Homo sapiens: one gene and its partners. The main gene of each other region encodes a partner of the protein of the gene in region 3 in a complex. Each region holds a gene or a part of one and is shown on either strand. Other genes may lie near its edges. The genes, in order: SMARCB1, SMARCA2 and DPF3.

The links.
Region 1: DPF3 (region 3) and SMARCB1 share a complex: the UniProt entries of both Homo sapiens proteins name them as parts of the BAF complex.
Region 2: DPF3 (region 3) and SMARCA2 share a complex: the UniProt entries of both Homo sapiens proteins name them as parts of the BAF complex.

Annotation. Positions count from the first base shown.
Region 1 is NC_000022.11:23,793,424-23,797,076, reverse strand, and holds part of SMARCB1 (SWI/SNF-related matrix-associated actin-dependent regulator of chromatin subfamily B member 1), read right to left. Parts: intron 3,519-3,653; coding exon 3,389-3,518; intron 1-3,388.
Region 2 is NC_000009.12:2,189,754-2,193,406, forward strand, and holds part of SMARCA2 (SWI/SNF-related matrix-associated actin-dependent regulator of chromatin subfamily A member 2), read left to right. Parts: intron 1-1,512; coding exon 1,513-1,655; intron 1,656-2,950; coding exon 2,951-2,986; 3' UTR 2,987-3,653. UniProt on the Homo sapiens protein: ATPase involved in transcriptional activation and repression of select genes by chromatin remodeling (alteration of DNA-nucleosome topology).
Region 3 is NC_000014.9:72,618,053-72,621,705, reverse strand, and holds part of DPF3 (zinc finger protein DPF3), read left to right. Parts: intron 1-1,721; coding exon 1,722-1,803; intron 1,804-2,338; coding exon 2,339-2,409; 3' UTR 2,410-3,653. UniProt on the Homo sapiens protein: Belongs to the neuron-specific chromatin remodeling complex (nBAF complex).

The DNA of each region.
Region 1 (3,653 bases), on a different chromosome or scaffold from region 3:
GCAGTGAGCCGAGATTGCGCCACTGCACTCCAGCCTGGGCGACAGCGAGACTCCGTCTCAAAAAAAAAAAAAAAAAGAAAAACAACCTTCCTTCCATTGCAATCCCAGCATCCCTGAGAGAGGGCACCCAGCCTCTGCTCAAATTGTCCGATGACAGGATGGGGAGGGTGCCATAAGTCCCCTTATTGGGCTGACTGAGTAGTGTGGAGCCAGCCAAAGCCACTTCCCTCAAACCTCTGCCAGCCCCCACCCCTAAAGACTTGACCTCCAGGGCAACGGGATTCCACTCCTGCAGCTGTTCCTCACGACATGATCACCAAGAAACTGTTTTATCGCCCCATAAAAGATTCCCAGCTGACATGTGCAGAATTAAAGTGCCCTCCATATGTACACAATTTCCTTCTGCAACTTCCCTGGGAAGGCCAAGCCATCCTTATGTTCTTACCACATCCCTTGGGGGAAAAAGAATCTGCAAAGCACACGTCTGTAACACTGGCCAGCCTGGAGGCGTGCCACCTTTCAGGGGAATCATAAAAAAGATTTTCCATAACCACATCACTCTGAACAATAATCCTTTTTCTTAATGCTCCTTGGGCTTTGTGCAGAGAAATGCATACTTTGTTGAGAGCTGAATGCACAAGGTAGATGGGTACAATCTTGTATTCTGCACGTCTCACCCACAGGACCCGTCTCGGGTCACTGCAGAATCTACTTAATTATACCATGTATGGGTCACACCTTTGTCCATTCAAGTGGCTGACCCGTCACTAACCTAGCCTTTCCTTAAAGGCTGGATACTTAAGCGACTCCATATTCTCCAGTATTATTCACAATGCTACAGAGAATCTCTGTACATATAGTGGGTTTACTGATTCATTTTGTTCTTTGAAAATGTTTCTTTGGGACAAATTCCCAGGGGCGGTATTAATGGGCCAGAGAACAAAAAAGTTTGATGTCAGGATGCTTTACAGAAAGGGCACTCCCGGCTGGGCACAGTGGCTCACACCTGTAATCCCACCACTTTGGGAGGCCGAGGCGGGAGGATTACCTGAGGTCAGGAGTTCGAGACCAGCCTGGGCACAATGGTGAAACCCCGTCTCTAATAAAAATACAAAAAAATTAGCCAGGCATAGTGGTGCATTCCAGTAATCCCAGCTACTCCAGAGGCTGAGGCAAGAGAATCGCTTGAACCCAGGAGGCGGAGGTTGCAGTGAGCCGACATCATGCCACCGTACTCCAGCCTGGGCAACAAGAGTGAAAACTCCATCTCAAAAAAAAAAAAAAAAAGCACCTCCAGCACACATGAGTGCAGTTCTATCACACCTTCCCCAATTCCTTATGTTGCCAGTTTTTTGTTTTATGCTTGGAATTTTTATTTTTATTTTTTATTTATTTATTTTTTATTTTATTTTATTATTTTGAGATGGAGTTTCACTCTCGTTGCCCAGGCTGGAGAGCAATGGCGCAACCTCGGCTCACCGCAACCTCCGCCTCCCGGGTCCAAGTGATTCTCCTGCCTCAGCCTTCCTGAGTAGCTGGGATTACAGGCATGCACCACCATGCGAGGCTAACTTTGTACGTTTAGCAGAGATGAGGCTTCACCATGTTGGTCAGGCTGGTCTCGAACTCCTGACCTCAGGTGATCCGCCCGCCTCGGCCTCCCAAAGTGCTGGGATTACAGGCGTGAGCCACCGTGCCCGGCCTGTTTTTTATTTTTTTTAAGAGACAAAGAGTGTCGTTCTGTTACCTAGGCTAGAGGACAGTGGTGTGATCACCACACTCAGCTAATTTTTTTAACTTTCAGTAGAGATAACGTCTCACTATGTTGCTCAGGCTGGTCTCCTGGGCAACACAGTCAAATCGTGGGCTCAAGCGATCCTCCTGCCTTGACTTCCCAAAGTGCTGAGATTACAGGCATAAGCTACCATGCCCAGTCTTATGCTTGGAATTTTTGAAATTACACATGAGGGCAAATTCTTTCCATGTTTGTTTACTCCCTTGTACTTCAAGGTATGGACCATCTTTTACCTATTTGTTGGGGTATCCAAGTTTGTTGTATAAATCTAGATGTATAGATTCTAGATACAACATCGTAACTTCCCAATTACTTGGTTTTTTAATTGTTACTATAAATACTCTTCTAAAGGTTCTAAGTTTTGTTTTGTTTTTGTTTTTTTTGAGGTGGAGTTTCACTCTTGTTGCCCAGTCTGGAGTGCAAAGGTGCAACCTCAGCTCACTGCAATCTCCACCTCCCGGGTTCAAGCAATTCTCCTGCCTCAGGCTCCCGAGTAGCTGGGATTACAGGCATGTGCCACCACACCTGGCTAATTTTGTATTTTTAGTAGAGATGGGGTTTCTCCATGTGGATGAGGCTGCTCTCTAACTCCTGACCTCAGGTGATCTGCCCACCTCGGCCTCCCAAACTGCTGGGATTACAGGTGTGAGCCACCGTGCCCAGCCAGGTTCTAAGTTTTTATACATTCAAATCTATTGTTGTTTCTTTTGTGAGTTTATGTGAGCCACTGATTTTTCTGACAAATTGGTCCCACTTACATGTTTTTTTAAGAAATGAGGTCTTGCTGTGTTGCCCCAGGCTGGTCTTAAACTCCTGGCCTCAAGCAATGCCTCGGCCTCCCAAAGCGCTGGGATTACAAACATAAGCCACTGTGCCCCACGAGTCCCACTTTCCAAGCATTTGTAACTGTTCTCCGGAATCCAGGACTTGGCTTACGTTTCTTAGAAATTCCAATGATATAGAAGAAACTTAGAAACCTGGCTAAGAAAATGTATAAAAACAGAGGGAACTGTTAAAAAGTGTTTCAATACAAAAATCAGGACCGGGCGCGGTGGCTCACGCCTGTAATCCCAGCACTCTGGGATGCCAAGGCGGGCGGATCACCTGAGGTGGGGTTTCGAGACCAGCCTGACCAACATGGAGAGACTCGTCTCTACCAAAAATACAAAATTAGCTGGGCGTGGTGGCGCATGCCTGTAATCCCAGCTATCTGGGAGGCTGAGGCAGGAGAATCACTTGAACCCAGTAGGCAGAAGTTGCAGTGAGCTGAGATCACGCCATTGCACTCCATCCTGGGCAACAAGAGTGAAACTCTGTCTCAAAGAAAAAAAAACTAGCCAGGTATAGTGGCAGGCACCTGTAATCCCAGCTACTTGGGAGGTTGAGGCAGGAGAATCGCTTGAACCTGGGAGGCAGAGGTTGCAGTGAGCCAAGATCGTGCCACTGCACTCCAGCCTGGGCGACAAGAACAAGATTCCATCTCAAAAAAAAAAAAAAAAAGTGTTTCAATTTAACTTCAACCCAACCAGTTCTTGAGTCTCAGAAAAGACCCCACAGGTGTCCCCAGAGATGCCCTGGCCAGGAACGCATTACCTGAGGTAGGTGGGGGGCTCTGTGCTGATGGACACAGCCTTGTACTTCTCATCGTTGCCATCCAGAATCTCTTCCACTTCCGAGGCTTTTAACAGGGTCACACTGGTGGCTAGAGTCGTGTATCCGTGATCTGTAACAGACAAACATCACTGGGTCACTCTGCTGGTGGCGGTGGCACACAGCAGCCAGCCAAGTGGATGCAGCACATCAAGGTCCTCGCATGCGGGAGGTGGGAAAAGCAAGGTGTCAAACTTACTACTGCTGA
Region 2 (3,653 bases), on a different chromosome or scaffold from region 3:
GGATTTGGAATGGAGGAAAGGCAAATGCTACCACCACACTTGAGTTCATAACAGCACAGCTCTCATCTCTTCTGTTAGCTTATGTTTCTGTGGGAGATTTTAGTTTTGGAAATATTTTGTGGGTCCCTCTACTTCACAAAAGAAGTCTGAAACAAACACTCTCATCTCCTTCTGGAGCTAGGATTCCCTCTATGACAACATCTATTTCTAGATGCCTTGAGACCCACCAAACATGGTAGTCTAGCAAAGCTAGCTTGAATGAGAGACCCACATTTTCAGTGCCTTCATCATCAAATACCAAAAATGGTATTCTGTGGATACCTATCCCAAATAGCTACCATGGAGCAGATTGTCTTTGTTCTTTGGGATATGTACCTATATTTGTGATATTGTACCTTGAACTCTTCCAAGTGTTTCCATTGGTATCCCCAGAATAGTCCTGTGAAGGTGGAAATGGGTGCAGTCTTTCTGAAGGCTAATCTGACAGAGCACTGTTAGAAATTTACCATATGGACATGTCCACCATACCTCCCTCAAATTCTACCAAGATACATTGAAATAGGTTCACAGCAGCTTTGTTTATACTAGCAAAAAAAGCAGCAAACTTCAGCCCTCATCATATGAGACTGATTAAATAAATTATAGTATACCATACGATGGAAAATTTTCAGGTATTTAAAAGAATTAGGCAGGTATGTATGAGGCTTTACCTATAAATATCCCACATATGTGAGTAAACAGCCAAGTGGAGAATATGGACATGTATAAAGATCCCTTTGGGATAACTACATAAAGAATTCAAGTATGTACGTGTGTATATATACTTACTTGAATTCTTTATATTCTATAGAGAGACTTTTATAGAATATGTAGAATCACACACACACACATACACACAGAGAGAGAGAAATGGATGTACTTGCAGGTATGGACATAAACATTTTTTTTCCTGGAAATAATTAGTTATAGGGAAAGAGACTAGGAATGGGGGAAAGGAAGCATTCAAAAGTGTTTTCTTTTTACTTTCCATTTTGTACCTTTATGTTAAAAATATGATTGAACTATTTGAATTTTCTTTTTAAGTCAATGGAGTTATCTACATGGTAAAATTATTGGCCTTTAAACTCTTTACATTTATTTATATTTTTAATGTAAAAGTTCTATTAAATGATTGCCCAACACCTCCACAAGTAGAAAACACTTCCCCTCATTATCCTTGGTCAGCCATTGGGAGACAGGTGAAGGATCCAGCCCCACTGTCCTCCATGAGACCTCGGTCCCTCTTGTTGCCTGTTTAGCGTGACTACATCATTTATCTTCCAAAAGAAGACAGGTTGGCAAGTGAAAGGGGTCGCTGACTAGACAGAACCACACAGAACAGGCATAAACCGGGAATGTTCTGGGCACTCTGGGATGTTTGTGTTGTCTGTAGGTTGGTGATAGTCTTACCACCTATACAAAGATCTCCTTGTGATTACTCACTGGTGTCTATTTCATTTGCTTTGGTTTTAGCAAAATCAGTCAAGGTGAAAATTAAGCTCAATAAAAAAGATGACAAAGGCCGGGACAAAGGGAAAGGCAAGAAAAGGCCAAATCGAGGAAAAGCCAAACCTGTAGTGAGCGATTTTGACAGCGATGAGGAGCAGGATGAACGTGTAAGTGTAGCCGACTGGGACTGAAGGCGGAGACGCCCTCTCCCCTGCTTGCTGGCCTCTTGCATTTCCATGCCCCTTCAGCCTTTTCGCTTTATTACCCAGGACTGGAAATGTCAGGATTTAGTGAGATTTCATTATTGAGGGATGTGAACGGAGCTGTATGATTTAGAACAAAGGATTGGGGGCTTTGTTTATTGCCTTTTTAATAGTCTTCAAAAATGAAAAACTACCAAATCAAGCTTCCCTTTCCCCCTTTTTAATCTTCCCACATGCTTTCTTATAAATATGGTTTTCCCCGTAGCCAGTTAATATTTTACATGCATCACAGCCAGCATGGTGCCTGGTACATAACAGTAGATTAGATGGAAGAATGAGAAAAACTGTTATGACGTCAGAGTTATTGGCTCGAGTTGCTACTTAAGGGACCATGTAAAAACTCAAAGGACTTTTTAAGTACCTAGGGGTGTTATTTTTCATATTTGAAAAATTCAGTGAGCATCTATTGAGCCAGGCCTTGTAATAGGTACCTCCCTGTGTGGTAGCATATTAAATACTGATGTCGGCATCGTGAGATAGATGTCACTCTCAAATAACATGTTATGGAAATGGTTAGGTTATGGGTGTTTTGCTACAGATCACGTCGCAGAGGTGGAATTCGGACCCGAGTAGCATAACTCAGTCTAGTGTGCTATGTCTGACTGGGCAGCAAGGTAGAAGAGTGGGCAGAAGCTCCTAATACCTTGCCTTTTGAAATACCCTTCATTTCATCCATTCACTTTCCAGAGGATGGTTTCCTGGCACCCACATTATTTTCTTTCTGGAAAGATAAATTTCCCTTTTCCTAGTTTGATTTTCCTTCAACACATTACCATTTTGGTAAAATTTCAGAATTATGATCTCACCCCAGCCTTAACCCTTGATGCAAGCATTTTCAAATACATTTTTCTTTAGGAGATGTCAAATGCAGGGTATTTTTTTTTCTCCCATGAATTTTCTAAAACCTGGGGCTGAAAAAGAGAAAATATTAGCCATAAACCTTTCAAGCCAAAGTGAAAGGGCACAAACAATAGCTTAGAGGGTGGGCTTTGCTTTGGGGTTTTTCAGTAAGAAAAACTTCTCAGCTTAGAGACTGTCGATGCCTCTTTAATGTGTTTCTGTCCTCCCACGGAAAGAGATTTGGCGAGTTGTTTCCAAAATGTCATTTTTTCCTACTGGCCTCTTGATGGTTTGTTGTTATATCTTCTTTTTCTTGCATGTGATGTTACTTCATTTTATCTTCTTATTTTTACTTTTAGGAACAGTCAGAAGGAAGTGGGACGGATGATGAGTGATCAGTATGGACCTTTTTCCTTGGTAGAACTGAATTCCTTCCTCCCCTGTCTCATTTCTACCCAGTGAGTTCATTTGTCATATAGGCACTGGGTTGTTTCTATATCATCATCGTCTATAAACTAGCTTTAGGATAGTGCCAGACAAACATATGATATCATGGTGTAAAAAACACACACATACACAAATATTTGTAACATATTGTGACCAAATGGGCCTCAAAGATTCAGATTGAAACAAACAAAAAGCTTTTGATGGAAAATATGTGGGTGGATAGTATATTTCTATGGGTGGGTCTAATTTGGTAACGGTTTGATTGTGCCTGGTTTTATCACCTGTTCAGATGAGAAGATTTTTGTCTTTTGTAGCACTGATAACCAGGAGAAGCCATTAAAAGCCACTGGTTATTTTATTTTTCATCAGGCAATTTTCGAGGTTTTTATTTGTTCGGTATTGTTTTTTTACACTGTGGTACATATAAGCAACTTTAATAGGTGATAAATGTACAGTAGTTAGATTTCACCTGCATATACATTTTTCCATTTTATGCTCTATGATCTGAACAAAAGCTTTTTGAATTGTATAAGATTTATGTCTACTGTAAACATTGCTTAATTTTTTTGCTCTTGATTTAAAAAAAAGTTTTGTTGAAAGCGCTATTGAATATTG
Region 3 (3,653 bases):
ATAGCTATAGCAGCTTCCTAACTGGTCCCCGGGCCTCTTGAATGAACCTCTCCCCCACTGGGTATCTACTCTTACATAGCAGCTAGTAAGATCTTTCTAAACTGCAATCTGATCGTATCACTCCCCTGTTGATAACTCTTCAAAAGCTTTCCTGTTGCCCCACTGACGGGTTTTAGCATGACAAAAAAAGCCCTCATTGCTTGCTCCCTGGGGATTCCAACAGCTATATCTAATTTTATCCAGGATTTCTGCACTGGTGGGGGCCAAGGTGAGATTTGATATAAAACTTTATTTTGAAAAAGGCTCATAAGCCATCCAAACAGTTTCAACAATCACCAAATAGAACAGAGCTGAAACTAGGGGGTGGGGCCAGATCACAAACAGTTTCCGAGCAGCTCCTGTATGCAAGGAAGTCTCTACAGTGGATGCAGTGATGAGGAAAACAAGATTTTGCCCCCAAGGGCTTTATAGTCCATAAAGGGGATAAAGGGTGGAAAAAAGAGGCATGTTCCAAATGAACTATTCAAGAAAACAAACATGTAGATGTCTTTTTTTTTTTTTTTTTGAGACAGAGTCTCACTCAGTTGCCCAGGCTGGAGTGCAGTGGTGCGATCTTGGCTCACTGCAACCTCCACCTCCCGGGTTCAAGAGATTCTCCTGCCTCAGCCTCCTGAGTAGCTGGGATTACAGGTGCACGCCACCATGCCTGGCTAATTTTTGTATTGTTAGTAGAGATGGGGTTTCACCATGTTGGCCAAGCTGGTCTCGAACTCCAGACCTCAAGTGAACCACGCGCCTTGGCCTCCCTAAGTGCTGGGATTACAGGCATGCGCCACAGCGCCCAGCCAAGAAAACAAACGTGATTAGATGTCTACCACATGCCAGGCATGTAACGTAAAGGAAAATGCATTTAAATGTCACAGAAAGGGAAAGTACCACAGGGCTGCACGAGGGAAGAGACAACTTCCAGTTGAGGTAGATTAGCAAAGACTTTGTGGAAAAGAAGTGCTTGAAGAAGACGTACTTGAAGGGCAGGCAGGGAATGGACATGCAGAGAAAGGGTCAGGGCCTGGGAGAGCCTCCAGGCAGAAGTAGCCATAGGTGCAAAGATATGGCCTGTGTCCTTTGAAGTTAACCACAACCCTGGGGTGCCCTGCTCTCACCCGGGCTCCAGCCTCCAGACAGTGAGGAAGCTTCTGGAAGCCGAGGGATGGCGCTACTTGCATTTTTCTACATTCTAATGAAACCCTGAAGAGGTTCTGAGGTTCATCCCAGTACAGCTGTTGGCCATTTCACAGATGGAGAGAGTGGAGTCCAGAAGAATTCAATTAAGATCTTCAAATATATAAAGTCATGGAGAATAGAGACATTTTCTGCCCTTTGGAAGCAGAGCTATTGGCTTTGGAAGTTCAGAAGAATAAGGGATCCCTTTAAATTTGGATGTGAGGTGTTAGTCACAGAAGGCGTCTTGGAGGAGGTACGAGTTGAGCAGAACCCTAAAATGGGGGTAGGATTTATATAGGCTGGGAGGTAGAGGGGGAAACTCCAGTTGTGGGAAAAGCACAGGCGTGTTCAGGGGACAGTGAGGACTCCAAGTGGGGCCTGGAAAGGGGATCCAGTGAGACCGACGTGGAAATAAGGCTGATGGGTAAGCGGGGGCCAGACATTGGCCCCGAATAATGGAATCTCTCCTCCTCTGTGCTTACTCTGTGTTCCACCAGGACCAGCTACTCTTCTGCGATGACTGTGACCGAGGCTATCACATGTACTGTTTAAATCCCCCGGTGGCTGAGCCCCCAGAAGGTAATGATGATGAAGTCAACAATAAGAACAGCAACAGATACTACTACTACTAGCACTTACTGAGCTCTCACTATGGTACAGGCCTTATGCTAATGGGTTTACATGTTCATGTCTTGTCTCATTTAATCATCACAACCCCACAAGGTAGGTACGACGACTGCCATTTTACAGATGAGGAAACTGAGGCACAGTCCAAGCAGCTGAAATTTCAACTTGAGGGCCAAGGAAGTTTTTCCCAGACATGCAGTGGAGATGACCGGGAGGTGTGAGCTTCCAGGAGAACTGGCGCAGGCCCGGCGACACTAGTTTGGAGGCATGACGCTAGTAGTGAGGGTCTTGATAAGAGTTGAGCCCATCTCCTCTGAGCACCTGCTTTCTGCTGAGCCACAGACTCTGGCACGTTTTCAGGCCTGGGACTTGGTTTCTGCATTGCCAAAGTTCAAAGGAAACAGGATTTACAAGAAGTTAGGGCCAGTGGGGTGGGGCTCCAGAGTTAGCAGAGGGGCTGCTACTAAAGCCGTCTCATTTCTTGCAGGAAGCTGGAGCTGCCACTTATGCTGGGAACTGCTCAAAGAGAAAGCCTCAGCCTTTGGCTGCCAGGCCTAGGGCCCCAGGTCACAGAATGTGACTCGCTGCTGGAGATCCTAAAGCAGAGCCCAGTTCAAACCAGAACGCGCCCTCCTCCCACATATCCAGCCAGACCAACTGCAAGGAAAAGAAATAGTCCCAGAGGGGCAGGGACACATGGAACGAAGAGGGTGAGGCATCTCCTGACCTCCCCCGATATGTACGGAACTTCAGCCAGCACCTCCTTGTCTCTACCGGAAGGAAGTTGCACTTTGGGAGAACACCTCCGGCCCCAGCCCTGTGGAACCCCTCTCACTTTTACCCTAGCACCGAGGCCCTCTCATTGGTTCCCATTTTAAGGGAAGCCATTTCCTGACCACTCATCCATTACTTGTGTGTAGTGTGGTGTTTTTTTATCTATTGTGTTCCAAGAAATCTTGGCACAGCCCCCGTGCCCCCAGCTTAGGGTCTGCATCCTGAAATTCTCACCTGAGGAACAAAGGGCTGTGGAGAAGTTGTCGTTTATGGCAAGCCTCACTGGAAACTTCTAGACTTGGGGTCTTGAAACCCTTTCTTGTTCCTTGGTGTCTGTGGAGACAAAGAGTTGCCTTCTAGAACCCCAGCAGTGGCATCCACAGCCAGCCTGGTCTTGAGCCACTGCTTAAAGTTACTAGATGGGGGCGGGGAGGGAGGGAGACGCGCAGAGACATGGGAGGAAACATTGTGGAAATGGTGCCAAGGCCCCGCCATAGCCAGTCAGTACTTGTTATCCATCGGGAGAGACTTTGCAAGAGGCCAGGCTGGTTCCTTGACCTTCAGAGCTGGGGCATCCTTTAGGTGAGACCAGTCATGGCCTATGGACAGAGGAAGACGGTCAAGCCTCTGCCTCTCAGCCCACCTGGTTCTGGAGACCTGGTTCAGCTTCTCCTGGTGGGACTGAAGAACCAGGAAGGGGAGCGAAGGCTGCCCAATCATGTGTCCGAATGCTGGATACAGGGGGCTGCAGCTTTGAGAAACCTTCAGTATTGATGCGACGCTCTGAATTCCTTTTTCCAAGTAATTTCTTCCTTCCACGTAGTGTTTGTTCGCTATTGTCTACTGAGACCTGACTGGGAATTTTAGGATGGGGGAGAGAAGATTGTTATCTAAACAAATAATTAGGGTGACATGGTCATTATTCACGACCAGGGTGGCCACATTTTAGAACTCTCAGTGCGGGGGCTGCTCTTGTCTCCTAAGCTCCCCAAACATGCAGGACTCTTGTTTTCAAAAAAAAATGTGTC